Linked DNA regions of Homo sapiens: all the other regions are linked to region 1. Evidence: fine-mapped expression QTL. A gene starts in region 1. Each other region holds a variant in brackets. All regions are shown on one strand. Distances are between the middles of the regions.

What was found.
Region 2: its variant is fine-mapped to the expression of CPXM1 in whole blood (TOPMed, PIP above 0.99).
Region 3: its variant is fine-mapped to the expression of CPXM1 in thyroid (GTEx, PIP above 0.99).
Region 4: its variant is fine-mapped to the expression of CPXM1 in iPS cells (iPSCORE, PIP 0.95).
Region 5: its variant is fine-mapped to the expression of CPXM1 in aorta (GTEx, PIP above 0.99).
Region 6: its variant is fine-mapped to the expression of CPXM1 in thyroid (GTEx, PIP 0.96).

What each region holds. Positions count from the first base shown.
Region 1 is chr20:2,797,891-2,802,976 of GRCh38, reverse strand. CPXM1 (carboxypeptidase X, M14 family member 1) reads left to right here and starts at 2,350. Exons shown (of 14, transcript NM_019609.5): 1 at 2,350-2,576; 2 at 4,084-4,251; 3 at 4,440-4,549; 4 at 4,686-4,825; 5 at 4,919-5,009. The coding sequence starts at 2,405. RefSeq lists enhancers at 1,807-2,792, 2,793-3,780, 3,781-4,768.
Region 2 is chr20:2,956,609-2,961,694 of GRCh38, reverse strand. All of the region lies in intron 3 of PTPRA (protein tyrosine phosphatase receptor type A), which reads right to left. Among named protein-coding and RNA genes, the nearest start is that of GNRH2, 84 kb to the left of the region's middle. The variant C/G (reference allele first, on the strand shown) is at 2,063.
Region 3 is chr20:2,751,755-2,756,840 of GRCh38, reverse strand. EBF4 (EBF family member 4) reads right to left here. Exons shown (of 17, transcript NM_001395167.1): 11 at 5,053-5,086; 12 at 4,854-4,919; 13 at 4,578-4,755; 14 at 4,296-4,484; 15 at 1,017-1,214. Among named protein-coding and RNA genes, the nearest start is that of CPXM1, 46 kb to the left of the region's middle. RefSeq lists a silencer at 4,437-4,616. The variant C/T (reference allele first, on the strand shown) is at 2,305.
Region 4 is chr20:2,946,244-2,951,329 of GRCh38, reverse strand. PTPRA (protein tyrosine phosphatase receptor type A) reads right to left here. Exons shown (of 24, transcript NM_001385305.1): 3 at 3,306-3,348. Among named protein-coding and RNA genes, the nearest start is that of PTPRA, 75 kb to the right of the region's middle. The variant T/C (reference allele first, on the strand shown) is at 2,562.
Region 5 is chr20:3,115,634-3,120,633 of GRCh38, reverse strand. All of the region lies in intron 3 of UBOX5 (U-box domain containing 5), which reads left to right. All of the region lies in intron 5 of UBOX5-AS1 (UBOX5 antisense RNA 1), which reads right to left. Among named protein-coding and RNA genes, the nearest start is that of UBOX5-AS1, 11 kb to the right of the region's middle. The variant G/C (reference allele first, on the strand shown) is at 2,860.
Region 6 is chr20:1,924,427-1,929,512 of GRCh38, reverse strand. SIRPA (signal regulatory protein alpha) reads right to left here. Exons shown (of 8, transcript NM_001040023.2): 5 at 4,636-4,749; 6 at 1,614-1,638. Among named protein-coding and RNA genes, the nearest start is that of PDYN-AS1, 20 kb to the left of the region's middle. The variant A/G (reference allele first, on the strand shown) is at 2,423.

The sequences.
Region 1 (5,086 bases):
GAACAGCAGGTAGTTAATACCACAAATACATCTTGCCAGGTTAAATCAAAGGCAACAGTTAAAGTCTGAAATTCTTGAATGAACTTAGAGGGATCCTGACTAAATGAACCCAACTTGGATTGAATTTGCAAAAGATCAGACATGATCAGAAAAGGGACATGAACTTGGCTTGTTCCCAAATCTTCATTAGCCACCTTAGGGAGAGGCAAAATATTTTGGGGATTTTTCTGAGGACTCTGTACTAGTAGCATATGTGACTCCCCTGAGAGTATGTGAAGGGGAGAAAGTATTTGGGTATGTGGGTGGGAGATTGACTAGGGAATGGAGCAGATGGAGAGGGTGTAGGTGAAGAGTGAGCAGGTTGAGGAGGATGTAATAGGCAAAAGGAAGGATCATCTAAGACATCAGAACCGGGAAGGGAGGACGTTCCTTGGAAGCATACATGACAATTTGTATGTAATTTTGGGTTTGGATTTGGGGATAAAGCAAAAAAGACCTGAACATATGGGACTTCTGAATCCTTTCCAAGGTTCCGGCAAAAAATCAGTTAAGTTGTAAAGTAGCATTGCAATCCCAAGTTTCATTAATTGGCCAAATTGATTGATTAGGGAGCTTGTATTGAACCCAAGCAATATTAGAAAAAAGGATATGCTTTTTAAACTCTTATTTATTTTTTATTTGTATTTTTTGAGACAGAGTCTTGCTGTGTCGCCCAGGCTGGAGTGCTGTGGCGCCATCTTGGCCCACTGCAACCTCCGCCCCCGGGGTACAAGTGATTCTCCTGCCTCAGCCTCCCTAGTAGCTGGGATTATATGTGCCCGCCACATATAATTAGCCCCCTGGCTGATTTTTTTTTTTTTTTTGTATTTTTAGTAGAGACAGGGTTTCGCCATGTTGGCCAGGCTGATCTCGAACTCCTGACCTCAGGTGATCCACTCGCCTCGGCCTCCCAAAGTGCTAGGATTACAGGTGTGAGTCACTGTGCCCGGCCAAGTTTTGCATTTTTAGTAGACTCCCGGTCTTTAACTCCGGACCTCAGGTGATCTGCCTGCCTTGGCCTCCCAAAGTGCTGGGGTTACAGGCATAAGCCATTGTGCTCAGCCTTATATGCTTATTTTTAAGAGTTTGTGGGTCAAAATGAGACCAATGGGACCATTTTTAAGGAGGCAATCCAAGGGCGAGTTGGATGGAACTGAATTAATTGAACCGAAGTTGGGTTTAGACAAGGAACTACAAGATCCCTGAGGCATCCCTGTGTAGAATTGAGATCCACCGCTTCCAGGACAAGGCTTATGGAGTGTTAAAATGAAAGTGCCCTGCCACTCTGACAGGCAATAGCTCTTTTGTCTTGGCCTTGGGGTAATACCGGGGGATGGCGCTTGGCCAGAAACTGTCAGTTGCCAACGAGAACTCAAGCTGGTTCACTGGCAGTCCGAAAACAGAAAAGAGCCCTGGCCAGTCCCTCACCCCTAAGGGCAAGGACAGCCAGGTATCCCTTCTCTAGGGCTTCAGGATCCCACAGAAGAGCTGCCTCCACCGGGACCGGCAGTTCCCCAAAGAGTAAAGAACCAGACCGTGGAAGGAAGCAGAGAGAAAAAGGAAGAGGGAAATCCCAGTGAAGTCCCCGTATGGGCCACCAAGATGCCAGGCGAGGTGTCAGAGCTCCGGAACCGGGAAGTGGTTGGCTCCCGGGTGGTAAAAGAACTTATCAACAACCGTGTAGGTCTGAAAAGGAAAGTTTTATTAGACGGAAAGGACGAGGCAGCAGAGCGCAGTAGGCGCTTCAGCAAGAGAGGACTGAGCTCCCTGCGGGGAACTGCAGGGTAATTTGGACCACATTAGTCACTTAGGTCATGGTAAATGGTTACATTTGTCGATATTTTGGTGCCTTGATGTCAGCAAAGTTTGCACAATGGGTCTTAACGTGCACTCATTCCGGAAACGTACAGAAATTCTAGTTACTTATAAATTCTTGGGACGGAAGCTTGGTACCAGATGTGGCTTTAGACAATAGGGAAGTGTCATTCTGAATTGCTCAGATAAGGGGCTTTGCCTCCTGTTGGTCGACTTGATGGCCACCAGGTGATCTCTGGTCTCTTCAGTGTGGCTTTGCAGACTATAAAGGCGCAGCGCGCCAACGAGGCGGGTTGGCCCCAGACGGCGGAGAGGAAGGGCAGAGTCGGCGGTCCTGAGACTTGGGGCGGCCCCTTGGAGGTCAGCCCCGCTCGCTCCTCCCGGCCCTCTCCTCCTCTCCGAGGTCCGAGGCGGGCAGCGGGCTGTGGGCGGGCAGGAGGCTGCGGAGGGGCGGGGGGCAGGAAGGGGCGGGGGGCTCGGCGCACTCGGCAGGAAGAGACCGACCCGCCACCCGCCGTAGCCCGCGCGCCCCTGGCACTCAATCCCCGCCATGTGGGGGCTCCTGCTCGCCCTGGCCGCCTTCGCGCCGGCCGTCGGCCCGGCTCTGGGGGCGCCCAGGAACTCGGTGCTGGGCCTCGCGCAGCCCGGGACCACCAAGGTCCCAGGCTCGACCCCGGCCCTGCATAGCAGCCCGGCACAGCCGCCGGCGGAGACAGCTAACGGTGAGTTCCCCGACCGACGGTCCGCTCCCCCGCAAGCCGACTGCCCGGCTCTCCTGCCCCGTGGGGCGATCCCTCCCTAACACGCGGGCACACGCACACCCACGCACACTCACAGTCATGCACACTCACCCCGCACGCACACTCGCACTCACGCGCACACACGCGCGCGCACTCACACACATTCACACACGCGCACACTTGCACTCACACGCGCGCGCATTCACACGCATGCACACACACGCACACTCACACGCGCGTGCGCGCACACACAGTGCACGCGCGCGCACACTCACACTCACAGTGCACACACACATATACACACTCACACTCCCTCAACTCCCTGCTGGGAGCAATGGCTGCTGACTCGGCAGCCCCAGTTCCCTGCCAGACCTAGTCAGCAGTCCCAGGACAGGCGCCAGTGGGATGCTGCCTCTTCCAAGCCCCAAACCTTCCCTTTTCACCAAAGACAAAACAGGCCAGAACTGGCAGGAGGGGAGACAGAGGGGCAGAAGCTCTCAAGGTGCAGAGCAAGACTGCGTAGGAGAGAGTTTGAAGGCGAGGGCTGGAGAGAAAGAACAAAAGGAAAGAAGGGAGAGCCCCTCGCTGAGGCTGCCGGGAGGATGGGGCAGAGCGGGAGAGGAAGGCAGCCCGACCTCCCAGCTTTCCAGATGTGGAATAGGAGAGGAGGAGCGCAAGCGGAGGGCACTCAGGGGCTTCTAGAGGAGGCAAGTGGAGGAGGGTCTTGAAGGGTGATGTCCCCGAGTCAGGGGAGTCTGGAGAGAGAGAGAGAGAGAGGGCTGCCAAGAAGGAAGCGGCGGGCAAAGGCACAGGGGCACCAGATGCGGAAATGGGCAGCCTGTTCTGGAGGCAGCTGTGGAGCTTCGATGGGTACCCCCAGCACCTGCCTGGGCAGAGCCTTGTGCTGAAGGGCCGGCGGGCAGGCCCAGCCCTGAAAGCCTCGACACCCAGGCAGACATGGATTCCAGGACAGGCCATCTGAGCCCAGAGAGCAGACACAACAATGGAAGCGGCACAGGGGTTTTGGGGCATGATGCTGAGTCTGGAGCTAAGAAAGCCTCCTTGGAAAGGCATCTGGGCTGAGATGCAAAGGAAGAATGGGAATTAGGTGAAAAAATCAGAGGCGAGGGGTAGCATTACAGGGGAGGGGATAGCTAGTGCAGAGGCCCGGAGGTAAAGTGCCAGACTCAGCTCTTTGGAGCAACCGAACAGTTTCTAGAGGCTGGGTGCAGCTCTCCATTGGATTAGAGGTTCACAGGGGAGGCTGGCCAAGCATGTAGTTACATCAGGGAGGAGAAGGAGGAGCCAAGGAAGTGACTGGAGAGGCAGGTTGGGGTCAGATTGCAGGCCTTTGATGTCCTGTGAAGGCTGTTAGATCCTGGTGGTGTGGCCTGCTGTGGGCTCACATGTCTTCTTGGGCTGGCAGACCTTTCCATCCGGGGTTTCACCATTCTTCCTTTCCCCCATGCTGTGCCTCTCGGACCCCAAGGGACCTCAGAACAGCATGTCCGGATTCGAGTCATCAAGAAGAAAAAGGTCATTATGAAGAAGCGGAAGAAGCTAACTCTAACTCGCCCCACCCCACTGGTGACTGCCGGGCCCCTTGTGACCCCCACTCCAGCAGGGACCCTCGACCCCGCTGAGAAACAAGAAACAGGTACTTCCTCTCCAGGGGCCCAGCCCAGACTTGCAGCCCCTGGGGCACTTTACCAGCACAGCTCTTGGCCTCATGGGCACCGGCACGCCCCTTGCTTGCCTAGCGCAGGAGCAACCTTAGGCTCAGCTTCCCACCTGCCCTGGCTACCCTCCCTCTGGTCCTGTCTCACTGTTCTATCCCCGCCCCAGGCTGTCCTCCTTTGGGTCTGGAGTCCCTGCGAGTTTCAGATAGCCGGCTTGAGGCATCCAGCAGCCAGTCCTTTGGTCTTGGACCACACCGAGGACGGCTCAACATTCAGGTCAGTAATCCTGGCTCGGAGCCATGGTCTCAGGGTAGGGAAGGCAGCCCCTGGGAGCTTCTCTCCTGCCTCCTCTCTGTCCTGGCCTGCCCCACTCTGTCCAACTGGGCCTGACCACCATGTCCTGTGTCTGCAGTCAGGCCTGGAGGACGGCGATCTATATGATGGAGCCTGGTGTGCTGAGGAGCAGGACGCCGATCCATGGTTTCAGGTGGACGCTGGGCACCCCACCCGCTTCTCGGGTGTTATCACACAGGGCAGGAACTCTGTCTGGAGGTGAGGCAGACTAACCCTAGGTCAGGAGGTCACAGAAGGACTGGGGTGGGAGTCCTGGGGGCACCGATGATCTCTCTCCACCTCTCCTGCCAGGTATGACTGGGTCACATCATACAAGGTCCAGTTCAGCAATGACAGTCGGACCTGGTGGGGAAGTAGGAACCACAGCAGTGGGATGGACGCAGTGAGTGGTCCCACTGTGGCTGGGGCCTCCATGCTGGGAGTTGGGCACCCAGTCCAGGCTAGGCTGAGGCTCCTCTG
Region 2 (5,086 bases), 160 kb before region 1:
TGGGTATGGCGAGAACTTTTTAGATATAACATCAAAGGCATGATCCATGAGAACATAATTGATAGTCTGGACTTCATTAAAATATAAAATGTCTACTCTGTGAAAGACAATGCCAAGAGAATCAGAGGATAAGCCACAGACTAGGAGAAAATATTTGCAAAAGATAGATCTGACAAAGGACAGAGAATTCTTAAACTCAACAAGAAAAATAACAACCAGATTAAAAATGGGCAAAAGACCTGAAGAGACACCTCACCAAAGAAGATAAACAGTACGGCAAATAAGCATCTGAAAAGACACAGAACATCAAGTCATTAGGTAATTGCAAATTAAAACGGGATACCACTACACATCTATGAAAATGGATTTTGGTTTTAAAATCCAAAACATTTGACAATACTACATGTTTGTAAGAATATGGAGCAGCAGGAACTCTCATTCACTGCTGGTGGGAATGCAAAATGGTACATCCACTTTGGAAGGCAGCTTGGTAGTCTCTCAAAAAAATAAATAAGCTCTTACCATATGATCCAGCAATTGTGCTCCTTGGTATTTAACCAAATGAGATGAAAACTTATGCCACTTAAAAAAAACCTGCACATGGATGTTTACAGCAACTTTATTTATAATTGCCACGACTGGGAGCAATCAAGATATCCTTCAGCAGGCGAATGGATAAATAAGTGATGGCACATCCAGACAATGAAATATTACTCACTGCTAAAAAGAAATAAGCTAAAAACATGAAAATACGTAGAAGAAACTTAAACATATATTACTAAGTGACAGAAGCCAATGTGAAAAACCATGGAGACAGTAAAAGATCACTGGTTAAAAAAAAAAAAAGAAAATAAAAAAGGCCAGGTGCGGTGACTCATGCCTGTAATCCCAACACCTTGAGAGGCCAAGGCAGGCAAATTGCTTGAGCTCAGGAGTTCAAGACCAGCCTGGACAACACAGCAAGACCACATTTCTATAAAAAATACAAAACTTAGCTGGGCATGGTGGTGTGTGTGTGTAGTCTCAGCTATTTAGGAGGCTGAGGTGGGAGGATCACTTGAGCCTGGGAGGTCGACGCTTCAGTGAGGAGTGATCATCACTGCACTCAGGCCTGGGTGACAGAGCAAGACCTTGTTTTTTAAAAAAAAGGTAGGGCGTGGTGGCTCATGCCTGTAATCCCAGCTTTGGGAGGCCGAGGTGGGCGGATCACGAGGTCAGGAGATCGAGACCATCCTGGCTAACATGGTGAAACCCCGTCTCTACTACAAATACAAAAAATTAGCCGGATGTGGTGGCGGGCACCTGTAGTCCCAGCTACTCGGGAGGCTGAGGCAGGAGAATGGCATGAACCCGGGAGGTGGAGCTTGCAGTGACCCAAGATGGCGCCACTGCACTCCGGCCTGGGGGACAGAGTGAGACTCCGTCTCAAAAAAAAAAAAAAAAAATCAGTGGTTGTGCAGTTAGGAAAAGGGAGAGAGGAGTAAGCAGGTGGAGCAGAGGACTGTCAGGGCAGTCAAATTCTTCTGTATGATACTACAATGGTAGACACATGTCATTATACATTTGTCCAAATCTACAGAATGTACAACACCAAAGCTTGGGTGATAATGAGGAGTCAATGTTGGTCCATCAATTGCAACAAAGGTACCACAGTGGTGTAGGATGTGGATAATGAGGAGGCTGTGCAGGTGTTGGGGACAGGTGGTATTTAGGAATGCTCTATATTTTCTTTCTTTCTTTTTTTAGGACGGAGTCTCACTCTGTTGCCCAGGCTGGAGTGCAGGGGCATGACTGTGGCTCACTGTAACCTCCACCTCCCAGGTTCAAGAGATTCTTCTGCCTCAGCCTCCTGAGTAGGTACAGTTACAGGTGTGCACCACCACACCCAGCTAATTTGTGTATTGTTAGTAGACATGGGGTTTCATCATATTGGCCAGGCTGGTCTTAAACTCCTGACCTTGTGATCTGCCCACCTTGGCCTTCCAAAGTGCTGGGATTACAGGTGTGAGCCACCGCGCCTGGCCGGAACTCTCCATACTTTTTGATCAATTTTGCTGTGAAC[C/G]TGAAACTCTCTAAAACACAAAGTCTATTTTAATTTTTATTTTTTCTTATTTCTCTAAGAAAAAAAAAGTCTATTTTAAAAAAGAAAATGAACTGTCATAAATAATTGAAACAAGAACTCATAACAATACTGAAAACATAACAGTCCAATTTTGAAAAATCTGAAGGACCTAAACAGATAATTTACAGACGAGAAAAACGAACAGCTAAGAAAATACACAAAGAAGTGTTGACTGTCCCCACTAATCAAATGAATATAATGAGATTACATTTTTATTTTCCAAATCAGAAGAGATCAATCATATGAAATATCCAGTGGTTAAATACTGGTGGGAGTAACAATTAGCCTACAATAAAAATTCCTTTCCAGAAAGGTAATACAAGAACAAGGGAAAAGAACAAATGCATGGTGATGGAAGCTGTGGAGAGAATTGGTATGCGTACACTAGGGAGGAAAAGACACATCAGAAGTTAAGAAGATCCATGTCACTAACAGGTACTATATCCATAGACCACGACCAGGAAAATCACAGTGAAAACCTCATCCGTCTCCGAGAAAGACTTTGAGGCAAACTCCTGTGACTTCCCGACCCCCCATATACAATGCATTTGCAACAACACTATCCTTACTTCTCTCTCTGGTTTCCAAATTTCTACTCCAACATCTCAGAGCTCCATTTCAGGAAGTAGGGTTGAGGTCCTCCTCACTCCTCAAGAATGCCATATGCAAAGCATTTCTCCTGGAGCCTGCTCTAACAGTCCCTGTTCTTTTTTTTTTTTTTTTTTTTTGATACAGTCTCGCTCTGTTGCCCAGGCTGGAGTACAGTGGTGTGATCTAGGCTCACTGCCACCTCCGCCTCCTAGGTTCAAGCAATTCTCCTGCCTCAGCCTCCCAAGTAGCTGGGATTACAGGCGCGTGCCACCATGCCTGGCTAATTTTTGTATTTCTTTTTTTTTTTTTTTTTTTTTTTTTTTAGTAGAGATGGGGTTTCACCATGTTGGCCAGGCTGGTCTTGAACTCCTGACCTCAAGTGATCCACCCGCCTTGGCCTCCCAAAATGCTAGGATTATAGGTGTGAGCCACTGTACCCGGCTTAACAGTCCCTGTTCTTGAAAGCTTTTTGCCCTGTGCTTTCCTATCACTGAAGACACTGTAAGTGGCTCAGTTTCCTTCCTGTCCCCCAGGCCTGCTATTCTCCTGGATGACTTCAATATCCTCATGGATGACAACCAAAATCCCCATCTAGGCCAGCCTCTCAGTTCCTTGACTTCCTTCACTCCAACAACGCTTTATCTCTGCTACACTTGGGCCACTCACGACAATGGCTGTACTCCAGATGCTGTCATCACCCAGAAAAGCCCCCATACTGAATAAATCTTGCCTTCCCACTCTCCAACCACACTTTCTATCCTTGTAGTTCTCTCTGTTATGTCTACCACACCTGCTCTCTGACCTCACCCAGGCCTTCAGTCTCTTGAACCCCTCTCTAATTCTTTTCAATATCTCTGCTCTATCTTTATTTCCTTTTCTACCAAATCAAGAAAACTTGGTGTCAGTTCAATCATTCTTTTGTCCTAACTTCCTTCACTACACTGTTCTTCTTTTACACCAACATGGAAAGAAAAATCCCAAACTGTCAGCCCTATACTTGGACTGCCAGATGCTGCTTAAAAAAAAAAAAAAATCAAATAACTCATAAGGGTTGTATCACTACAAATCACTATTTCCGCTTCAGTGGAACCCTAAGCACTTTCTGCAGTCTTTCTGTCTTTCCTTAGCTCTCTCCAATTCTCCATAGCGGTGCCTTCAAACCTCCTCTCCCCTCTAACCATCTCCTCCCACACATGTGGCTGTTGGCCTTGCCTACCCTTCCAAGAAAATAAAAGCCATTGGACTAGACACCCTTAACTCCCCAGTCACTATATCCAGAAATTTTCCCCTTCCCTGAAATTCCATCCAGGAATCTCAGTCCTTTAGGAACCCTGCATTTTTTTCTACCACCATCTCTAGCTTTAACCCCTCCCTTTCATACCAGTTTTTAACACAATTAAGTTTTCAAAGAAGATGAAAAATTTCTTTGCATCTACATCAATCCTTCAGCTATCATTGTCTCTACTCTGCTTCATAGCCAAATCTCTAGAAAGAGTTGTCTCTCCATGGCAATCTGGCTTCTTGTTCCACCATTCCACTAAAACAGCTGCTTCCAGCCTAAAAGTAAAATGGGTAAACGATATGAAACATAACTCACAAAAAACCATACAGTTCTCTTAAATCTATGAAAAGATGCTCAACCTCACTGATGATCAAAGAAATCAATGCTGAGATACCATCTTTTTTTTTTATTATTTGAGACGGAGTCTCGCTCTGTCGCCCAGGCTCGAATGTTGTGGCGCGATCTCGGCTCAGTGCAAGCTCCGCCTCCCAGGTTCATGCCATTCTCCTGCCTCAGCCTTCCGAGTAGCTGGGACTACAGGTGCCCGCCACCACGCCTGGATAATTTTTTGTATTTTTAGTAGAGACAGGGTTTCACTGTGTTGGCCAGGATGGTCTCGATCTCCTGACCCCGTGATCTGCCCGCCTCAGCCTCCCAAAGTGCTGGGATTACAGGCGTGAGCCACTGCGCCTGGCTGAGATACCATTTTTTAATCTATCACACTGGCGAACATAAAAAACTTTGATAATGCTGCATTGGCAAGAGTTTGAGTAAACAGGTACTCTCATATAATCTATAAATATTCATCAGAATTACAAATGCACAACCCCTCTGACACAATTCCACTTCTGGAAACTTATTCCACGGATACATATCCATACTTTCAAAGTGACCCATGTACAAGGTTATTCAATGTAGCATTGTTTTCAAGAGAAGAATACTGGAAATACCCTTAACGTCTATCAATGGGGGAGAGAGACATGATTAAATAAATTATGGCTGATTTATTTATTTATTTATTTATTTATTTATTTATTTTTATTTACTGAGACAGGGTCTTGCTCTCTCACTCTGGTTGGAGTGCAGTGGGA
Region 3 (5,086 bases), 46 kb after region 1:
AGCCACTTACGTAATTTCAACACTGATTCTTTCCTAATGCTCTGTTGCTCTGACCCATTATTGTCTTGGGGAATACTCAATAGGACGTGCTCTAACCCAACCTCTTCCAGATCAGTGCCCCACAAACTGCACTGCAGCCTTCTGTGTGGGTGTGAACGGTGCCCTTCTGACTCATATATTCATTCAATAATTTGACTATTTATTAAACACCTGCTGCATGCCAGATTGAGTCCTAGGGGATCCCGTGGAAGCATCCCTTAGCCAGAAAAGAAAACACCTGTAAGCCTCTTAGGGAAGACACTGGCCCTGGCCCCCACCATCCCCATCAACAAGGACCTGTTCTGCCCCACCCACATCCTGTTGCCTCCTCCTTTTCCACAGCCAGTCCCTTCCTCTGTCCTCCCAGTGAGTTTCCAATCACCACGTGGATAGGAAAGGCTCTGCTGGTTCAAAGGTTCTGCTGCACATGGGTAAAGTGAGAGAACAGCCATTTCATGAATGGGATGTGGGAAGATGACTTGGTCTCAAGTCCTAATCTGTAAAATGCGGGGAGGGAAGCTGGGCTAAGCCTCTTCTAAGGTCAGTCCCCTTCCATGGTCAGCGACCCAGTCCCTCACAGTGGTGTGTGCTACCCTCTGGTGGACACAGGGAGGCACAGGTACAGGCGTGCAGCCCACCAGCTCTGAGGGTCTTTGCTCTGGGCTCAGCTGGATGGGGATGGAGTGTTGGGGTAGTTTCTAGACCTCATCAACTGTGATTTGAGTCTCTTCCCCTTGGCCAAGTGGTCAACTGAGAGCATCCAGAATGGTGACCATCCCAGGCTGGGAGGCCAGGGCAGAGGGGGCCAGAGGGACCTCCCTGGACCCCAGCAGAGCTCCCTGCTCTCCGTCCTCCAAGAAGAGCAGGTTAGCCAGCATGAGGCACTGGTGAGATGTGGACAGAGCAGGCCCCTGTAGCCCAGCTGCTCCACAAGGGCCCTTCCTTCCTGCCACAGTGAGGCAGGGTGGATCACTCACCTGGAAGCCCCTCTCCGTGGGCTCTGGGGCAGGCCTGGGGTGGGGAGCTTGGGGGGCGCAGCACGGGGGCGAAGGCGCTCCTCTGTTTGACGGCGGAGATCATGTTGACAGGCGAGAAGGAGAACACGCTGGTGGTGGGGGCAGCGGCCGGGAGGGACATGGAGGAGGCAGCCGCCAGCGGGGGGCTAGAGGGCATGACTCCGGGGCGGGGCGGGGAGGGGCAGGCGCAGCAGGGAAGGTGGTGGGAGACACAACAGGGAGACAGCACCAGAGTGAGCAGCTTGGCTGGGGCCCCACATGGGCTGCTGACACAGGTACCAGGCTCAGATCTCACTGGGAGCTGTGAGGGTCCTGGGCCAGCCCTGACCTCTCAGCGGTTCTGGAGACCTTTTCTCGGGGCTGGGGATGACAGGGCCAGACCAGGTAAAGACAAAAGCAAAACCAGAACATTCAAAAAAAACAAACAGTGGGAGGTACCCCCCAAAAATGAGATGAGCAACAGCTGGACTACTTCAGGATTTCTGCTGAAAACCCCTGGGATTCTGAGATGCTAGGAAACATTTATGAGCCTTGCTTGGGGTGCCAAGGCTAGAGTCATAGTTCAGGAGTCACAGAAGAGCTGGAACAAGTAGTTAGGGATGAAGTTTGGGGGAACGCACAGGCTCCTGTTATAAGCCTCTCTGCCCAGCATCACAAACAGCACTCCAACTTCCTCCTCAAATATGCTCTCCTTGCCAATGTTCCCTATGCTCCTCTGTCCCTCTCCCACTTCCCCCTGCACCCTGGGGTACTTTGTTTCCTTACAGCTTAATGCAGGTCCTTGTCATCTCCAGCCTGGGCCCTGTGGGGGGGGGTGGTCTCCTGAATCTCCCACTTCCAGCTGGTCAATTTTAAAGCAAATTGCAGGGATGTACATCCTCAGATCTTCCTGCTCTCAAACTCCCTAGCCACCCAGGCTGCGGCTTGCCCTCCTGGGAATGGCAAGGGAGCCTCCTGCACACAGACTTTGCCTGCCCCCTCTTCCTGCAGCCTCCTCTCCTGGGGGCTCAGGCCTGGGGCATCGCTGGATCCCACCTTTCTACATCCTCATCTGAACCCAATTCCCTGCCTCTCTCCTGTAAAGACTGGTAAGGCTGTGATCTGAGTATTGTCCAGGCAGCAGGCAGTGGGGTGGGTGGGGCTTCCTGGAAGAAAGCAATAGCCTGAGAAGGCTGCCTTTGGCATCAGAGGGCCCTCCTACCTCCCTTGATACAAGAATGCCTTCAACAGCTGCCCCTCTTCCAAATGC[C/T]CTCAGCCTCATCTCCTTTAAGACAACAGTTACTGCCAGCTGGAGAGGCCCCAGAGCCCGATGAAGGGCTTGAGACCAATGCCAGAAAATGTACTATAGCTCTCAATGCCCAGGGCTCACGGCCACATTTTGTACCTTGGGTAGGTAGTGTGGGGAGTTGTGATTCATTCCAGGGTTGCTGGTGGCTGAAGCAGAAAAACAAAGAGAGACCCAAGCAAACAGCCCCTGAGCCTCTGGCTGGGGCAGTTCTGATGTCACTCCAGGAATGTTCTCGCAAACTCAATGAGAATGACACCCCTTGGAGTCGGGCCACAAAGCACCCTGAACGTGGGGAGTGGAAGGGTACCTGGGTAAGCCTCGGTCAAGACAATATCATGAAATGGGACCAACCCTCCCTCAAGTCCAGTGTGTCTCCAGCTGATGCTGGGTTTAAGCAGCTCTAGAATTCTTGATCTTCTTGCTGAATCAGAAGACCCCAGCTGGGCTGGGTTCTGCACACTGGGGCAGAGTGTTCCTCTACTGTTGACCACAGTGTATGTGATGTTCCATACCCCCACCAGTGTTGGCCCAAGGGGGTGCCCACAGAGAGGCTGTGAGGGTACTGCCCCAGAACTGAAGGGAAGGAGGAGCAGTCAATCCTGGCCTGAGCAAAGAGCCAGGAGAGGCAGGGGCCTTGGGAGGGACACCAGAAGGCCATGGCCTATGTGGACTCTGGCTTATGGGGCCTTGGGTCCCAGAAGTTGAGCCCAGGCCAGAGGACAGGGCCAGGCTCAAGCCTTCAGCCAGAAAGCAGGCAGGACACACGCCCTGCAAGGAAAGCCAGGCTGGTGGACAGACAGTGCAGTCTCGGCAATGGCAAATATGGGACAGGGAGAGGAGAGGGCACCACGGGCAAAGCCATGACCAGTTCCTTCTGGGACAGCCTTCACCACCTCTCCAGCTCGGCAGAGTCGCCTGGGACTTCAGGGACAATCTCTCTTATGATTGATAGGGAGGCTTCTTGCAGGTGACAGGAGTGGGGGGATCCCCCAAGCCCTGGGCTTTGCATACAGTGGGCGCTTTATAAATGCCTGCTGAATAGCTAAGCTAAAAAGAGCTGTGAACATGCTGATCTGGAACTTGATGATGGAAGAGTCTTGAGGGCAGTGTAAAATGACAAGGCATCAAAGCCGTTCGGAAGGTCACTCACTCATGACATGCAGACATTGCCTGTCCACCCAGCTCTGAGCTCCCCACTCTAAGAAGCCAGATGGGATGTGGTCAGCGCCCACAGTCAGGGCTGGGACTCCGAAATCACACACTGGCCCTTTAGGCACAGTGGCACATTCAGATCCGAGATCAACCTTAAGCAGGGGGTGGAATTGACCCTATTTGACTGCGAGGAAACAAGTTCAAATAAGTAACTTGCTGAATGCCCGGCAGCTCCTGATTTGGACACTGAAACTCAAATTCTGTCTGATCACACAGAACTCGCTCGCTCTGCCGGACGACATCGCGGGGACCACATCCTCCCCACGCCCACCTGGCCTCTGGAGTCCTGGGAGCTGGGGGGCGGCTGGAAGCCGGCTTCCCTCGAGCCCTGAGTTTCCTTAGGCTTCCGGCAGGCGGCGCCAGCCTCCTCCCCAAGTCCGGGCGCGAGATGGGAAGGGGGCGGTGTCCCAGGTTTCAGATGGACGCCCGCCACCCATTAGAGCCCACTTCAGGGGGACCGGAGGCCTAGAAGCGATGTGCATAACGGACCGGCAAAGAAGGCTAAAAGTGCACGGAGTACTCTGGCCCCAGGACCCCGGGATGTGCAGCCTAGGGGTGGGGTTGAGGTTCTGCGGCAGGGGAGGTCCCAGGCGGGGACGGTGGGCCTGACCCCGAGGGCTGAGCCAGGGTCGACTCTCACGGCGCCGGCGCCCCAACCTCTCCGGGATGGGCGGGGGCGGGGCTGAGTCCCGTTCCGCTCCCCGGCCCCAGACCTTCCCTCGCGGGCGGGGGACACTCACTGGCGAAGGGCGAGGTGGCGGTGGAGCCATTGAGGAAGCTGGGGGACCCAGGCACGCCGAGGCCGGCCACGCCCGGCGCGCCGTAGCCGCCCAGGCCAGCTCCGAGGCCGCCGCCGTAGCCGCTCTGCTGCGAGCCGGGGCTGGGCGCGAACCCGCGGGGGGACGCGCTGCTGCAGCTGCGCGCGTAGCCTGCGAGAGAGAGCGCGGCCGTCAGGGGGCGGTGCCGGCCGGGGAGGGGCGGTGGCGGCGCCCGAGGACGGCGGGGAGGCGCGGCCCACGCACCCGGCTCGGGCCCCGGGGTGGCGTCCCCGACGGCGATGGCCAGCGGGCTGCTGAAGGCGTTGATGCCCACGACGGCGGGGTGTGGGTGGCTCGGGGCCAGGGGTGCGAGCGGCCCGGGTGCGCGGGGGGTGCTGTACAGAGCCTCGGCCACGTCCGCCGCGCGCTTCAGGAGCAGCTCCTGCGAAGACAAGAGCGGGGCACGGCCGGGGCAGCCGCGGGCGCCGCGTGCTGGGGGGCCCCGGTCCCGGCGGCGCTGGGAGGGCGGAGGCGCCATACCTGGTTACTGCCGGGCACTCCGTACAGGGCTTCTGCCAAGTCGGCCGCCCGCTTCAGCAGCACTTCCTGGGGACAGGGGGAGAGACAGCGGGACGGAGGGGCAGCCCCTGGGGGCGACCAAGGGGCCCTCGGGAGCCCCTCCTCACCCCCTTGCCCACAGGACACCCTCAGCCCCGCCCCGCCCCGCCCCTCTGAGTACCTTGGGCAGCCTCTCGGGGTCTCCGGGGTGTCTG
Region 4 (5,086 bases), 150 kb before region 1:
AGGAGATCGAGACCATCCTGGCTAACATGGTGAAACCCCGTCTCTACTAAAAATACAAAAACTAGCTGGGCGTGGTGGCGGGCACGCCTGGAGTCCCAGCTACTCGGGAGGCAGAGGTAGGAGAATGGTGTGAACCCCGGAGTCGGAGCTGGCAGTAAGCCGAGATCGCCCCACTGCACTTTAGCCTGGGTGACAAAGCGAGACTCCGTCTAAAAAAAAAAGAAAGAAAGAAAGAAACAAACAAACAAACAAACACATGGTTAATACTATACTACATGATTTCACTTGTATAAAACTCTAGAAAATACAATCTAATCTATAGTGGCAGAAAACAGACCAATGGTTGCTTAAGGATGAGGGAGTGGGCAGGGGCAAGAGGCAGTGATTATAAAAGACACAAGAAAACTTTGGGGAGAGATTATATGTTCACACTCTTGTTGTGGTGATATTTCCCTGCTATATACATGGATCAAAATGTAATAAATTTTACACTTTAAATGTGTACAGGTTATTGTTACATCAATTATAAAGTTGTTTAAGAATTATAGGAATAATCAATGAAAAGAAATACAATGAAAAGAATTTCATTTTATTGTATAATAAAAATGAAACAAAGCCAAAAGTAGTTATTTGATAAATTAACAAACAGGTAAAAAGAGAAGACACAAGTAAATTTTTTTTTTTTTTGAGATGGAGTCTCGCTCTGTCGCCCAGGCTGGAGTGCAGTGGTGCGATCTCGGCTCACTGCAACCTCCGCCTCCTGGGTTCACGCCATTCTCCTGCCTCAGCCTTCTGAGTAGCTGGGACTACAGGTGCCTGCCACCACGCCCGGCTAATTTTTTTTTTTGTATTTTTAGTAGAGACGGGGTTTCACCATGATGGCCAGGATGGTCTCGATCTCTTGACCTCGTGATCCGCCCGCCTCGGCCTCCCAAAGTGCTGGGATTACAGGTGTGAGCCACGACGCCTGGCCCACAAGTTAATATTATAAATCAAATGTGGAAATAATTACAGAAGTAGCAGATAAAAAACAGATTATCCACAATTATAGGCAAATAAAACTAAGAAAAATGAACGAATCTCTAGAAAAAGAATAAAAAACTAGCCCAGGAAGAACAAAAGACCTGAATATTCTTACAATTAAAGAGGTTGACCACAAGTTCAAATTTGTCCCACATAAAAAACACTGGACCCAGATGCTATTATAGGTGAGAAAACAAGAGTGACTAGTTCCCAGCTCATTCTAAGGAGAGAGCAAAACCAGGCACCAAAACTGGACAGAAACATTACAAGAAAGAAAATCACAGGCTCACTTTTACACAATAATATATATTCAAAAATCATAACAAAGTATCAACAAATTGAATCTAGCATATAAAAAAGATAAATCATGATCCAGTTGAGTTTATCCAAGATATACAAGGATATTTTAACATAAAATCTATAAATATAATTCACCCATATTAAAAGAGTTCATACAACCATTTCAACTGATGTAGAAAATGCATTAGATAAAAACATATGAATTCAAGATTTTAAAAAATCCTTTTAAATAGAAATAGAAGAAACCTTCCTTAACCTGATAAAAGTTACTATTTAAAAAAAAAAACAATACGCAATTATCTTCAACAGAGAGAAACGGAAAGCATTCCTTTGAAAATCAGAAATAAAGTAATCTACTATCACTTCTATTCAGTATTGTATGAAAAGTCTGCCTTCGCAACAAGAAAAGAAATTTGGCCAGGCACAGTGGCTCATGCCACTGTAATGGCACTTTGGGAGGCTGAGATGGGAGGATTGCTTGAGCCCAGGAGTTCAAGACCAGGCTGGACAACATAGCAAAACCTTGTCTCTACGAAAAATTTTAAAAAGAAAAAGAAATTAAAATTATAACAATTAGAAAGGAGACTAATACTTGCAGAAAATCTGATTGTTTACATAGAAAACCTACGAGAATTTAGGCCAGGCATGGTGACAAAGCGAGAAAACATCTGAAAATAAAAAAATTAAAAAAAAAAAAAAGAAAATCTACAAGAATCCATAGGAAGTAAGTTATTGGAAATAACAGGGTAACTTTGTCAAGGTGATTAGATAGGTAATTTTTATACCCTAGCAAAAATAGCCACTGATTTGCACTCAAGAAAGGGTCTATTAGGTTAGGCAAGAACTAATCATGTGTAAATACTGATAAGGAATCAGATGGGAAGGAAGGGAAGGTACATAAGAAAGGCAAAAGTGGGAGAAGTTGTAGAAAAGTGAGAGAACTGAAATCTGACATCTTAAAGATTTCCCCATAAGTATGCAGCAAGATCACAGGCAAAGAGAGAAGGGGGAGATAGTGGGATATGGTTTTTTATTTTTATTTACTTTTTTTTTTTGAGACGGAGTCTCGCTCTGTCACCCAGGCTGGAGTGCAGTGGTGCAATCTCGGCTCACTGCAAGCTCCGCCTCCCGGGTTCACGCCATTCTCCTGCCTCAGCCTCCCCAGCAGCTGGGACTACAGGTGCCCGCCACCACGCCCAGCTAATTTTTTTCTATTTTTAGTACAGACAGGGTTTCAC[T/C]GTGTTAGCCAGGATGGTCTTGATCTCCTGACCTTGTGATCCGCCCACCTTGGCCTCCCAAAGTGCTGGGATTCCAGGCGTGAGCCACCGTGCCTGGTGGTTTTTTAAAGTATTAAGAATAATACTGGTGCTATAGAAAATGGCGGGAAGTGCTGACACCAGGCAGCCCAGCAGTCCTGAGGGCCCAGGTGAGATAAGATCCATTTTTCCAGGATTCTTTTCTGAAAAAATGCTCTAAGCACTAATGGTATGGCAAACATACAGAATTAAGGTTTTGCTAGATGAATGTAATGAAACTATAAGCAACGAGGTTGAGTACTGGGAAGAGAATGGATGAACTGCTGAACCACAGAGTCTAGCATTGACAGGAAACTAAAGCAGATACTAGAGACATTAGAGAAAATAAAAAACTTAAGTGGCTAAAACCCCAAAAGTTGAGAATATTTTATAGTGGGAATAACATAGTAGGTAAACTGGAAGGCTCCAAGAAGCTAATTTCACCAGAATTTTTTGGAGCCTATTGTAGTTGATGGGCTATAGTCCTTGAAAAATCAACACATATCACTAATTTTAAATACCATTCCCTTGACATGTATCGGTCTCAGTAAAATGCAAATCCTTTACTATGCACCCCCACCCCAGATTATGCCATAAGCAGCTTGCTAAGTAGCCCTTCAGAATTCCATGTTTCCTTTCTTCCTCTATTCTTGTAGAAAAAACTTAAAAAACTATTTCAGTACTTACTAGCTTCTTTTAAAAAGTTAATTATGCTCTTTGAACATGTGTCCTAGAAAAAAAGAAATAAAAAACAGTTAATTAGGAGTATCTAGGTTATGTGAAGCATTCATCAACCTCCTATTGACAGAAATTATCGATAGGCAAATTTTATATATAAGTAACTTTAACATGAACACTTCTTAAACTTTGGCCTCATAATTTCACAAAAATTAGGCTGCAAGTCACCATATTCATCAGATACTGGCAGACACTAACTTCTGCGGCTATGACACCAAGCAATACTGAAATCTCTTATCTTTCCAGGGGGGTTGTTCATGTATTCAGTGTTTGCAAAGAGTTCCTGCTGAGCTAAACACAGTCCACTGTGCACTCTACGAAAGAGTCCATGAGACAAGCATGGGGGAGGGTAGGAAGTTTAATACTTTCACAATGCCTGTGGAGACGCTGGCAGTGATGAAAGCCTAGAAAACTCATGAAAGGACCTTTTATGAGCAGGGTGAATGTAGAGCACAAAAGCAAAGTCAGATGACCCACTTAAAGCTTTGCCTTTACTGATGAGAATTCATTCTCATTCCAGATTAGTCTCTCTCTAGAAAAAGCAAACCTTATATAAGAGTTGGAAAATTAAGATACAGGAAGTATAATTCTACTAAATTCCAGTTTTTCCTTCTCAAATATCAGCCTAAGTCCTAAGGTCTGTGGCCAAAGACAGAAAATACAAGGCGCTGAGAAATATGCTATTTATCTTGGTGTAACAATCTCTGACTGTTGGGGTTTGAGGAAATTTAAGCTCTACAATCCATAGATCAGACCAGAAGTTTAGGGTAGTAATATTATGAGAGGAAATAGTTTCTTTCTGGAACTTATATAAAGCAAATAAATGGTAAACCTGATTTGCAAGGTAATGACAGTCCAAGTTCCTTCAAAGCAGAGAACCACTTATTTGCTCATTCATTCAACTAAGTTCCTTGTCTTGTGCCAGGCTGGAGAGAGAAAGCAGCTCCTGTCCTCAAGGAGCTCACATCTCAGGCATCTTCTCACCCTCCTTTCTCATGTTAACCAAAACATTTCAGGTTCATCAATGAAACTCTTCATCCAGGAGGCAGATAAAATGGCTTCTCTTCATTTTGATTCATTTACTCTTTCTTTTATTTATTTTATTATTATTATTTTTTTTTTTTCTGAGAAGGAGTCTCGCTCTGTTGCCCAGGCTGGAGTGCAGTGGCGTGATCTCGGCTCACTGCAACCTCTGCCTCCCGGGTTCAAGCGATTCTCCTGCCTCAGCCTCCCAAGTAGCTGGGATTACAGGCATGCGCCACCACGCCCGGCTAATTTTTGTAATTTTAGTAGAGATGGGGTTTCACCATGTTGGTCAGGCTGGTGTCAAACTCCTGACCTTGTGATCCGCCTGCCTCAGCCTCCCAAAGTGCTGGGATTACAGGTGTGAGCCACCATGCCCGGCCTACTCTTTCTTTTAAACAGAGAAATAAGATGGAATATTTTTATCCCATCTTTTCTTCTGTAATTAAAAAAGGAATACGAAGAAACTTGACATAGTCTCTCTCCTCATGTGCTCTCTTACTTCCCATCCCAATTCCATGTTTGCTCTCTTTTTCCTCTCTCCTTCTGTTTTGTTGTGAATGAAGAATTAGGTAACTAGTCCAAAACTACAGAGCTACACCTGGAGCCTAGATTCACTGGTAGCCAAATCACTAATTTTTCTGAAGGTAAATGGGAGAAAAATGGGGGTTGGGGGGAAAGCTCATTAATACAGTTCTAAGTCAATC
Region 5 (5,000 bases), 320 kb before region 1:
CGCTGTGTCGCCCAGGCTGGAGTGCGGTGGCATGATCTCGGCTCACTGCAAGCTCTGCCTTCCGGGTTCACACCATTCTCCTGCCTCAGCCTCCCGAGTAGCTGGGATTAGGCGCCCGCCACCACGCCTGGCTAAGTTTTTGTATTTTTAGTAAAGACGGGGTTTCACCTTGTTAGCTAGGATGGTCTCAATCTCCTGACCTTGTGATCCACCCACCTTGGCCTCCCAAAGTGCCGGGATTACAGATGTAAGCCACTGCACTCGACTTCTGTTTTTTTTTTTTTTTTTGAGATGGAGTCTCGCTCTGTCACCAGGCTGGAGTGCAGTGGCGTGATATTGGCTCACTGCAACCTCCGCCTCCCAGGTTCAAGTGATTCTCCTGCCTCAGCCTCTGGAGTAGCTGGGATTACAGACGCGCGCCACCACGCCCAGCTAATTTTTGTATTTTTAGTAGAGAAGGGGTTTCACCATGGTGCCCGGGATGGTCTCAACCTGTTAACCTCGTGATCCACCTGCCTCGGCTTCCTAAAGTGCTGGGATCTGCAAGCCACTGTGCCTGGCCTGCAACATTCTTGAGTATGAGATTTAAGGATCCTGGCTTCCTGCCTCTTCCCTGGGGCATTGCCAGTGATTTCTAGGGCCGGTGATGCTGCTCTCTCCTGAGGTGAGCAGCCCTGGTTCACTGGGTGACCTCTGCAGCTGAATGTGTTCAGTGTGAATACCTCAGGGCAAGCTGGATGTTGGATCTTAGGCTGAGATAGATGTTTTTTTGTTGTTGTTGAGATGGAGCCTCACTCTGTTACCCAGGCTGGAGTGCAATGGCGCAATCTCGTCTCACTGCAGCCTCCGCCTCGCAGCTTCAAGCAATTCTCCTGCCTCAGCCTCCCAAGTAGCTGGGATTACAGGCATGTACCACCACACCGGCTAATTTTTTGTATTTTTAGTAAAGACAGGTTTTCACCATGTTGGCCAGGTTGGTCTCGAACTCCTGACCTCAGGTGATTCGCCCACCTCAGCCTCCCAGAGTGCTAGGATTACAGGTATAAGCCACCGCGCCTGGCCTGAGATAGATGTTTTTATCATGTTAAAGAAGTATTGGTTATCTATTGCTAGGTAACAAATTACCCCAAAACTTACTGGCTTACAGCAACAAACATTCATTGTCTCATAACTTCTGTGGATCACAAATCCCAGCGTAACTTGGCTGGATTCTCTGCTTCAGGGTCTTCCAAGTCTGCCATCAAACTGGTGGCTGAGGCTGTGGTCATCTCAAGGATCAACTGGGGAAGCATTTACTTCTAGTCTCACCCACATCATTGTTGCAAGATTCAGCTCGTTGATGCATTGTTGGACTGAGGCCTCACTTGCTGGTTGGCTGTTGGCCCAAGGCTGCCCTCGGTTCCTTGCCTTGTGGGCCTCTCCATAGGGCAGTGTACTGTGTGGGAGCTGTGCGTTCCAGAGAGAGTGCACAGACGAGGGAAATCCATCTTTTAGAATGTAATCTTGAAAGTCACACTCCTCACTTCTATTGTATTCTTATTTTTCCCAAGGTATTTGTTAATTGCTTATTTATAATATTAAGAGAAATGATTTCTTAGCCTCCATCTTCATATTTCTTAGTTCGAGAACACAGATCAGTGACAAACTTCTGTGTAATTCAACCTAAATAATTCCTTCCTTCCTTCCTTTTTTTTTGAGATGGAGTCTCACTGTGTCACTCAGGGTAGAGTGCAGTGGTGTGATCTCGGCTCACTTCAATCTCTGCCTCCCGGGTTCAAGCAATTCTCATGCCTCAGCCTCTGGAATAGCTGGGACTATAGGTGCGTGCCAACACGCCTGGCTGATTTTTTTTCTTTTTTTTTGAGACGGAGTCTCGCTCTGTCGCCCAGGCTGGAGTGCAGTGGCGCGATCTTGGCTCACTGCCAGCTCCGCCTCCCTGGTTCACGCCATTCTCCTGCCTCAGCCTCCTGAGTAGCTGGGACTACAGGCGCCCGCCAGCACACCTGGCTAATTTTTTTAATACTTTTAGTAGAGACGGGGTTTCACTGTGTTAGCCAGGATGGTCTTGATCTCCTGACCTCATGATCCACCCACCTCGGCCTCCCAAAGTGCTGGGATTACAGGTGTGAGCCACTACACCTGGCTGATTTTTGTATTTTTATGAGGCAGAGTCTCACTCTGTCACCCAGGCTGGAGTGCAATAGCACAATCTTGGCTCACTGCAACCTCTGCCTCCTGGTCTAAGCAATTCTCCTGCCTCAGCCTCCAGAGTAGTTGGGATTACAGGTGCCCACAACCGTGCCCAGCTAATTTTTGTATTTTTAGTATAGACTGGGTTTTGTCATGTTGGCCAAGCTGATCTTGAACTCCTGACCTCAGGTTATCTACCTGCCTCAGCCTCCCAAAGTGCTGGGATTACAGGCATGAGCGATAGTGCCCGGCCTGTTAATGGTTTCTTTTTGTTTTGTTTTTTTGGAAACAGTCTCCCTCTGTCGCCCAGGCTGGAGTGCAGCAGTGACGCAATCTCTGCTCACTGCGACCTCTGCTGCTGGGATTTAAGTGATTCTCCTGCCTCGGTAGCCAAGACTACAGGCGCACAGCACCATACTGGCTAATTTTTTTTATTTTTATTTTTATTTTTTGAGACAGAGTCTCATTCTGTCGCCCTGGCTGGAGTGCAGTGTCGCAATCTCTGCTCACTGCAACCTCCGCCTCCCGGATTCAAGTGATTTTCCTGCCTCAGCCTCCTGATTAGCTGAGATTACAGGCGCTCGCCACCATGCCTGGCTAATTTTTGTATTTGTAGTAGAGATGGGGTTTCGCCATGTTGGCCAGGCTGGTCTTGAACTCCTGACCTCA[G/C]GTGATCTGCCTGCCTCAGCCTCCCAAAGTGCTGGGATTACAAGTGTGAGCCACCACGCCCAGCCCTGTTATTTATTTATTTATCTATATAGTGACGGAGTCTCGCTCTGTCGCCCGGGCTGGAGTGCACTTGTGCGATCTTGGCTCACTGCAACCTCTGCCTCCTGGATTCTAGCAATTCTCCTGCTTCTGCCTCCTGAGTAGCTGGGACTACAGGCACATGCCGCCACACCCGGCTAATTTTTCGTATTTTATTAGAGACGGTGTTTCACCATGTTGCCCAGGCTGGTCACAAACTCCTGAGCTCAGGCAATCCACCCGCCTTGGCCTCCCAAAACTCTGGGATTACAGGCATGAGCTACAGCGCCTGGCCCCTGTTAATAGATTTTAATGGTTCTGTTTGCTAGTGTTAGGATTTTTGTATTCATTAGTGGGGTTGGACTGTAGTGTGTGTGTGTGTGTGTGTGTGTGTGTGTGTGTGTGTGTGCCATCTTTGGTCAGGTGTCATTGATGATTTTTTTGTTCCATAGAAAGAATTTAGAATTTTTTCTTTTCTGTGCTGTGGAACAATTGAATAGTATTGGAATACCCACTCTGCCTGTCTAGTAGAAGTCCTTGTGATTGTCAGTGCTTGGTGCTTGTGGAGGGTAGCTCTTTGACACGTTTCCTTTTTTTTTTTGAGATGGAGTCTCGCTCTGTCACCCAGGCTGGAGTGCAGTAGTGTGATTATGGCTCACTGCAACCTCTGCCTCCTGAGTTCAAGCGAATCTCCTGCCTCAGCTTCCCGAGTAGCTGGGATTACAGGCACGCACTACTACGCCTGGCTAATTTTTGTATTTTCAGTAGAGACAGGATTTCGCCATGTTGACCAGGCTGGTCTTGAACTCCTGACTTCAGGCGATCTGCCTGTCTCAGCCTCCCAAAGTGCTGGGATTACAGGTGTGAGCCACTGTGCCTGGCCTGGCAACCTTTTCTTTTTCCTTATGGAAATTATTCTGTTTAGGTTGATCATTCTTTTAGTTTCCTATGTTCTTCTAAAAGACTATGCAAATACTATGCTTAACGTTTATTTCTGTGTCTTTGGTTTTAAGAGTAAATTCTAGTTAACATGACCTTCAGAAACTCCTGGAAACATCTGAGGCGCAGTGGGGTGGAACAAGGAAAAAGGTCCTTAGACTTCAGCGTCAGTTTGTGGAGGTCTCAGTCCTGTTGGCCTTGACAGACTTGGTGACTCAGGACCACGCTGACTAGGGCTCCTTCAAGGCCCTGAGCTGATGTCCTGTGTCCTGCAAACAGTGGACAAAAGTTTCCATTCTCCTCTTTGAGACAGCATTGCAAATTTTTCTGCCACACAGGTCCCTGGGGTCTTTCTTGGGCAGCTGTCCCCCTACCCCTTTGGCCTTCACCCTCATTCCATGGCTTGGCTTTCTGTTGATCCTACACTAAAGGTCCCCTAAATTGTGGCGTGGTCAACGTGGGGTCTTAGTTCTATTCGGTAAAAACTGCTTTGTTTTACTTAACAGGAGAGAGAGGACATGAACACCTAGAAAATGCAGATGAACCCCTCTGGGGGGTGGTGGGGTCCCCAGAAGGGTGGAGTTAGGGAAAGAGAAGACTAAGGCCGCTGGGGAGGGAATGGGGGGCAGGGAGCAGCAGTCCAAAGCTGGCGTTTGCTTGCCCCAGTTATTTTCTTGGCCAGCAAGGAGGCCTTTAGAAAGGAGGCCAGGCGCTGTGGCTCACGCCTGTAATCCCGGCACTTTGGGAGGCTGAGGCAGGTGGATCACGAGGTCAGGAGATCTCCTAGCCAACATGGTGAAACCCCGTCTCTACTAAAATACAAAAAATTAGCCAGGCGTGGTGGCGCACACCTGTAGTCCCAGCTACTTGGGAGGCTGAGACAGGAGAATCGCTTGAATCCAGGAGGCGAAGGTTGCAGTGAGCTGAGATGGCACCCCTGCACTCCTTCTCAGCCTGGGCGACAGACCAAGGCTCCATCTCAAAAAAAAAAAAAAAAAAAAAAAGGAGCGTGCAGTTCTGCAGTTGAGCCACGAGGTGGCTCATGTCTGCCCAGCAGTTTCTCCAGGAGGAGAAAAGCCTGAAGCCGGTGGGATGGGCAGGAACTGCCGGTGTTCCTAGGGCTT
Region 6 (5,086 bases), 870 kb after region 1:
ATGCAACTGCTTTGCCTGATATTTGCCCCATCACTCCACCCATCACCTGCACCCCCCAACTCAGGATACAGCACTCCACTGCCCCCAACCTTGAGGTGGTCCTTAACCCTACAGCCAATCTATCAGCAAGTCCTCTTGTGTCTACCTTCAAAATATATCCAGAATCTGAGCACTTCTCAGCCCATCCCACCACTTTGGTCCAGGTCACCATCTTTTTCTGCTTGGACCAGTACCGCTATGGTCACCTACACATCCTCACCTCCTGTAGTCTGGGCTCCACATGTAGCCAGGCGACACTTTTAAAACAAAAGTCAGATCGTGTCCATCTTTTGGTTCCTCATCCCACTGCGGATAAAATCCCGAGTCCTTCTAACACCCACAGGCCCCACTCCAGATCATCATGTCCTATTCTGTAATTCTGAAACCCAGAAAGCTCTAAACCATCAAAAGATTGGCACTATGCAGTTGCTGGCAAAACCTGGTGTGAACCAACATGAAGCTATTTATAGTTTTATTTATCACTCTTAGCACGGATGTCCACATGGTTCTATGCAGATGGGTTCACATGGCAGATGATGGTGTGCTGCCTCTGCTCTGCTGGGGATGAAGATCAGAGGCCTTCCAAAAAGCCGATAAAGGCTTTTCACAGAATAGTTCGTAACACCTCTGACTGCAGGGGCATCTGCAAAGGACACCGGGATGCCGAGGACCTGGGTCTTCCTGACCTTATCTTCTTCCTCTCCTTCCCTCTGGCCCAGCACACAGGCCTCCTCTCTGGCCCAGCATGCTCCTGTCCAACATAGCTCACTAGTTTCAGGCACCCGTTTGCATCCCCTTTTCAGAGGCAGTCCCTTCCTCTGCCTAAGACAGCCCCCCACCATTCACCTCCATCTCCTTGCAGGGTAGGAGTTGTCACCACCTGATATGACACCATGAATCACTTTATTTCTGCGTTTATGCCTGTTTCTCTCACCGGCGTCTGAGCCCCATGAAAGCCTGGGCTGATTCTTGTTTACTGCTATATCACCAGCTGGTCCTGAGCAGGGCTGGCACATAGTAGGGACTCAAGTCACTAAAAATGTGAATCAACAAACTAAAGTGCCATCGGTGACGTACATCAGTGATGTAATGTCACCGTCTGAGCCTCTGACCAGGCTGTGAGCTTGCAGAGGGCACAGATTCTATCCTACTCATCCCGGCATTCCAGGGTCACAGCACGCCAAGGTACTCAATAAATATTTACTAAACAAAGGAAAGAGTAAAGTATACAACTTGGATCTGGGAGGATGCATCCGGTGGCGTGTGCAGGATGTCTGTGAGGACAGAAAGCCCGGGAGGTCTCTGCCCCAGTCCACATGGGATTAGACAAGGGTCTCGTTGTCTGGGAAGAGCAGGCAAGAAATTAGCACCTCTGTGCACCAAAAAAACCCCTCATTTGGGACAATAATTAAAAACAGCGTGACCCAGTGTGAGGAGGTTACAAAGGAGAGAAAGAGACATGTTGACCAACACATTGGTGAGGTCAGTGGACATGGATTATGCTTTGTAGTCTGGGGGGCTGTCAAATAACCAAATAATAACTGCAAGAGGGTCTGGACCAATGATGCACTTACCTTGTAGAAGAAGTGGAGCCCTGGGCTGAAAGACAAAAGAAACAAAAGCCAGTTGTTTAACTAGAAGCACACTTTTCTTATGTAACTATTTTTTGGCAAAAGGTTTGCCTCCAGGGACATGGAGAGGAAATGCTGTAATCACATCCTTGGAACCACAGGAGACCCCCATGCCCACCCAGTGGGCATCCTCTTCCACCAAGGAAGCCTGGGAAGGAGTAAGCTAGATGGTCCTGCTTTTCCACTTCTGGAAGTTGCCAGGGGTCCAAAAGCAGCCTTCAGCCTGGGAGGCGACAACCGCCCTACCTCTGTCTGGGTCTCACCTCCATTCAACCACAAACCTCAGCGGAGACCCTCCAACAAGCCTAGGTCCCAATCAGTGCCCTTCGTGGCTTGAAAACAGATTCTAGCAGGGCTGCAAATCGGGGATCATGTGTGAACCCCGGGTCTGCTACCCACTCACTCACCATGTGACCCCGGGTGGGTCACTTCCTCTCTCTCAGCTTCTATAACTTGCAGGGTTGGGCTGAGCATCCATTTATTTACATGCCACCACTTTCCAAAAAAAGGATCTTGGAAGGAAAGAAAGTGTCCATCTGGTTCAGAGGTTTTAAACCTGTGATATGGGGTAACCCACAGAGAAGCCTCCAGGGTTCAGCAGCCGTTTGACTCCCATTTTGCTGTAAAATTGTAATTAAAAAGCAACATGCACACCCAAATGCACTCTGCACCGCACTTTAATAGGCTGGAGGCTGCCACAGTGCAAGAATTCTTGCTGCTGGGTTAACGCTTGCTGCCTGGGCAGGTCCTGG[A/G]TCTTTAGATGAGGTGTACCAGTTGGAAGCTGTGCTCAGCACCGAAAGTCTGAGTGGAGGCTGACAGGTTGCAAAGTGCTGGACACAAGTCATCTCTGGGAATCCAGTGATAGGACACCAGTCACCCCCTTTTACACCAGAGAGACTAGGTGACTCCTCAGGGTCACACAGCTGGGTAGTGGTTGAGTTGAAATCAGGACATTTCACTGTGAGCATTGAGAGGCTGGGCAGACCCCTCCAGGGCCTAATGAGGGAGAAGGGGGGTCTAGTTATGGCGGAGGGAGGTAGTGTGCAAGGTGGTCCTAGACATGGTCCTTGGGTTTAAATTCTGGCCCCACCACCTCCTGGCTGTGAGGCCCTGAACAAGTTTTATAACTTTCCCATGCCTCAGTTTCCTCATCTGTAAAGTGGGGTTAGTAATGTCACCCATGAGGTCTGTGGTGAGCACTGACTGTTACTACAGGGAAAGCACAGTGAGCAGTGCCTGGCACATTGGAACTGCTGGGGGATACTAGCCGTCCCTGTCACTGGAGCCTGTGTTTGAGAGCTAGGCTCTGCACACAGACCTGCCACTCGGGCTGGGTGGCCTTTACCAGAGCTGCAGCCCTGCAAACTCCATTCCTCTGCAACACCTAAGCCCACAGTAATGAGCTCACGTGTGCCAGGAGCTGGCGTGCTGCCTGGGCCTGAGACTCAGAAAGGATGGCCAGGATTTCACTATCGGCTGCTATGAATGCTTCATCCCATGGGATGGGCTGTCACCCTTGGTGGGGAAGGGACCTGCTTCCCCATCCAAGGAGGAGTCCTCCCTGTGTGGGGCTCTCCAGGAACTTTAGGGAACCCATTGGGTAGACGTCTTGGTGGGACGTCTTGCAGATTCTGGAGAAGCAGGGCCTGACTCCAACCCTCCCAGACAGAAGCATCAGGCTTGGCCAGTATCTCAGAGCCAGCCCAGGAGGGAGGGAAACTTGGGAGGCAGAGGTGAAGGAGCTACTGAAGGGATGCGTGATTAGTGTACAATGTGCCCAACCAAGCTCAGCTGTGCCAGGCCACAGAAAGGCAGCTCGGGACAGCACTTGTCCCTTTGGAGGCGGTGGGTCACAACCAGCATTTTAAACAGAAAAAAGAATATGACAAAAAAGAAAATATCAGTTTTAATTTTATATACAAAGGGTGTGTGTATGTGTTGGGTTGAGATGTGAAATGTATTTCTATCTCTTGTAATAAAAAAAGGTTGCAGAAATACCAGCTTAAAATTGTCTTCTCCAAGAGTGGGAAAGAGAACATGTATTTATGGCGATCCTAGAATGTGTCAGACCCGTTATTTCACATGGGCTTATTTGGATCTTGTAACTTCTCCAAGACAGGCGTTGCTAAACCCATTTTACAGATGGGGAAACTGAGGCTTGTAGAGGCCAAATTGATTGTTTACAGTATATAACCAGGGTCTGGAACCCTGGTTTGTCTGACTTCAAAGTCAGAGGCCCTGCCACAGCAACAACCAACCCTCCCAACAACCAGCACACACACACAGACACACACGTAACACGTGCACACAAACAAGGGGAAGCGGTGTCCTGGGTTTGACCCTGTGCCCTCCTGCTGTGCAGTCAAAGGCTATGCACCTTGCCCTGTGAGGGGGCTTTCTAGGGAGGTGGCTCATATTTCTGGGCTCACATACAATACGGGTAATAATCAGGGCTGACATACATTGAGCACTTGTGTGCCAGGTTACTTCCCTAACATTTCCCATGCAATCACTTGTTAAGTCCTCCCAATCAAATGGTGGCGCTATTATCTCCATTCCCTCTGGCCTCCTGTCCAGGGACTGGTCATGTAACCTAGACTTGTACCAGGAAAGCAGAAGTCTGCCGGGAGGCTCCTGGGAAAGACGATGTCCTCCCTGAGACAGGTAAGAAGAGTCCCTGCCTCCTCTCTTCCCAGGCTGGCAGCTCCCTTGCTCAGTAGTGGCCCCTTGAGGACACGGGGCCTGGGGCAGTGATGAACATCTTGTAACCATGAGGGGGAAGCCACAGAGTGACCCACCCAGACTCTAACATGGTGAGGCCACTGCCCCAGCCCTAGCACCACTACCTCTGGACTTCTTGCTACTGGCAGAAGCTGATGTCCTTAACCCAAAGCACCTAATGGCGTCTCCCTCCGAGGACAGTCCAGGGACAAACCCTTAGGGAGGAAGAGGGGAATGCACCCACCTTTCTTCTGTCTGATTCGGACGAGGTAGAGGGCCGCCATCAGTAGGGCCACCAGCAAGGTGCACACCACACCCACCACAATATAGATGTTCCGTTCATTAGATCCAGTGTTCTCTAGGGACCACATGGAATAGAGGCTTCACGTATGCAGATTAAAAACAGAAAACCAAACCCACCACTGCTTTTCACCACTAAGCAGGCATCATTAACTGAGAACATCTGGCTGGACCTTCTTAGATGTCTCGAGCCACATGGGCACACTCATGGGTCTGTACACACTTGCCCACGAGACTCATCCATGAACAGCACAAAAACCATGCTGAGGTGCCAGGGGGGAATATATTTGTAGCTGACAGCTACGGAGGAACCCCTGCTGCAGGATACAGGCAGAAATCTCACTCCTGAGGAACAGAAACGTTCCTTCTCATCTGGAGTGAACCACAGAGCGGTC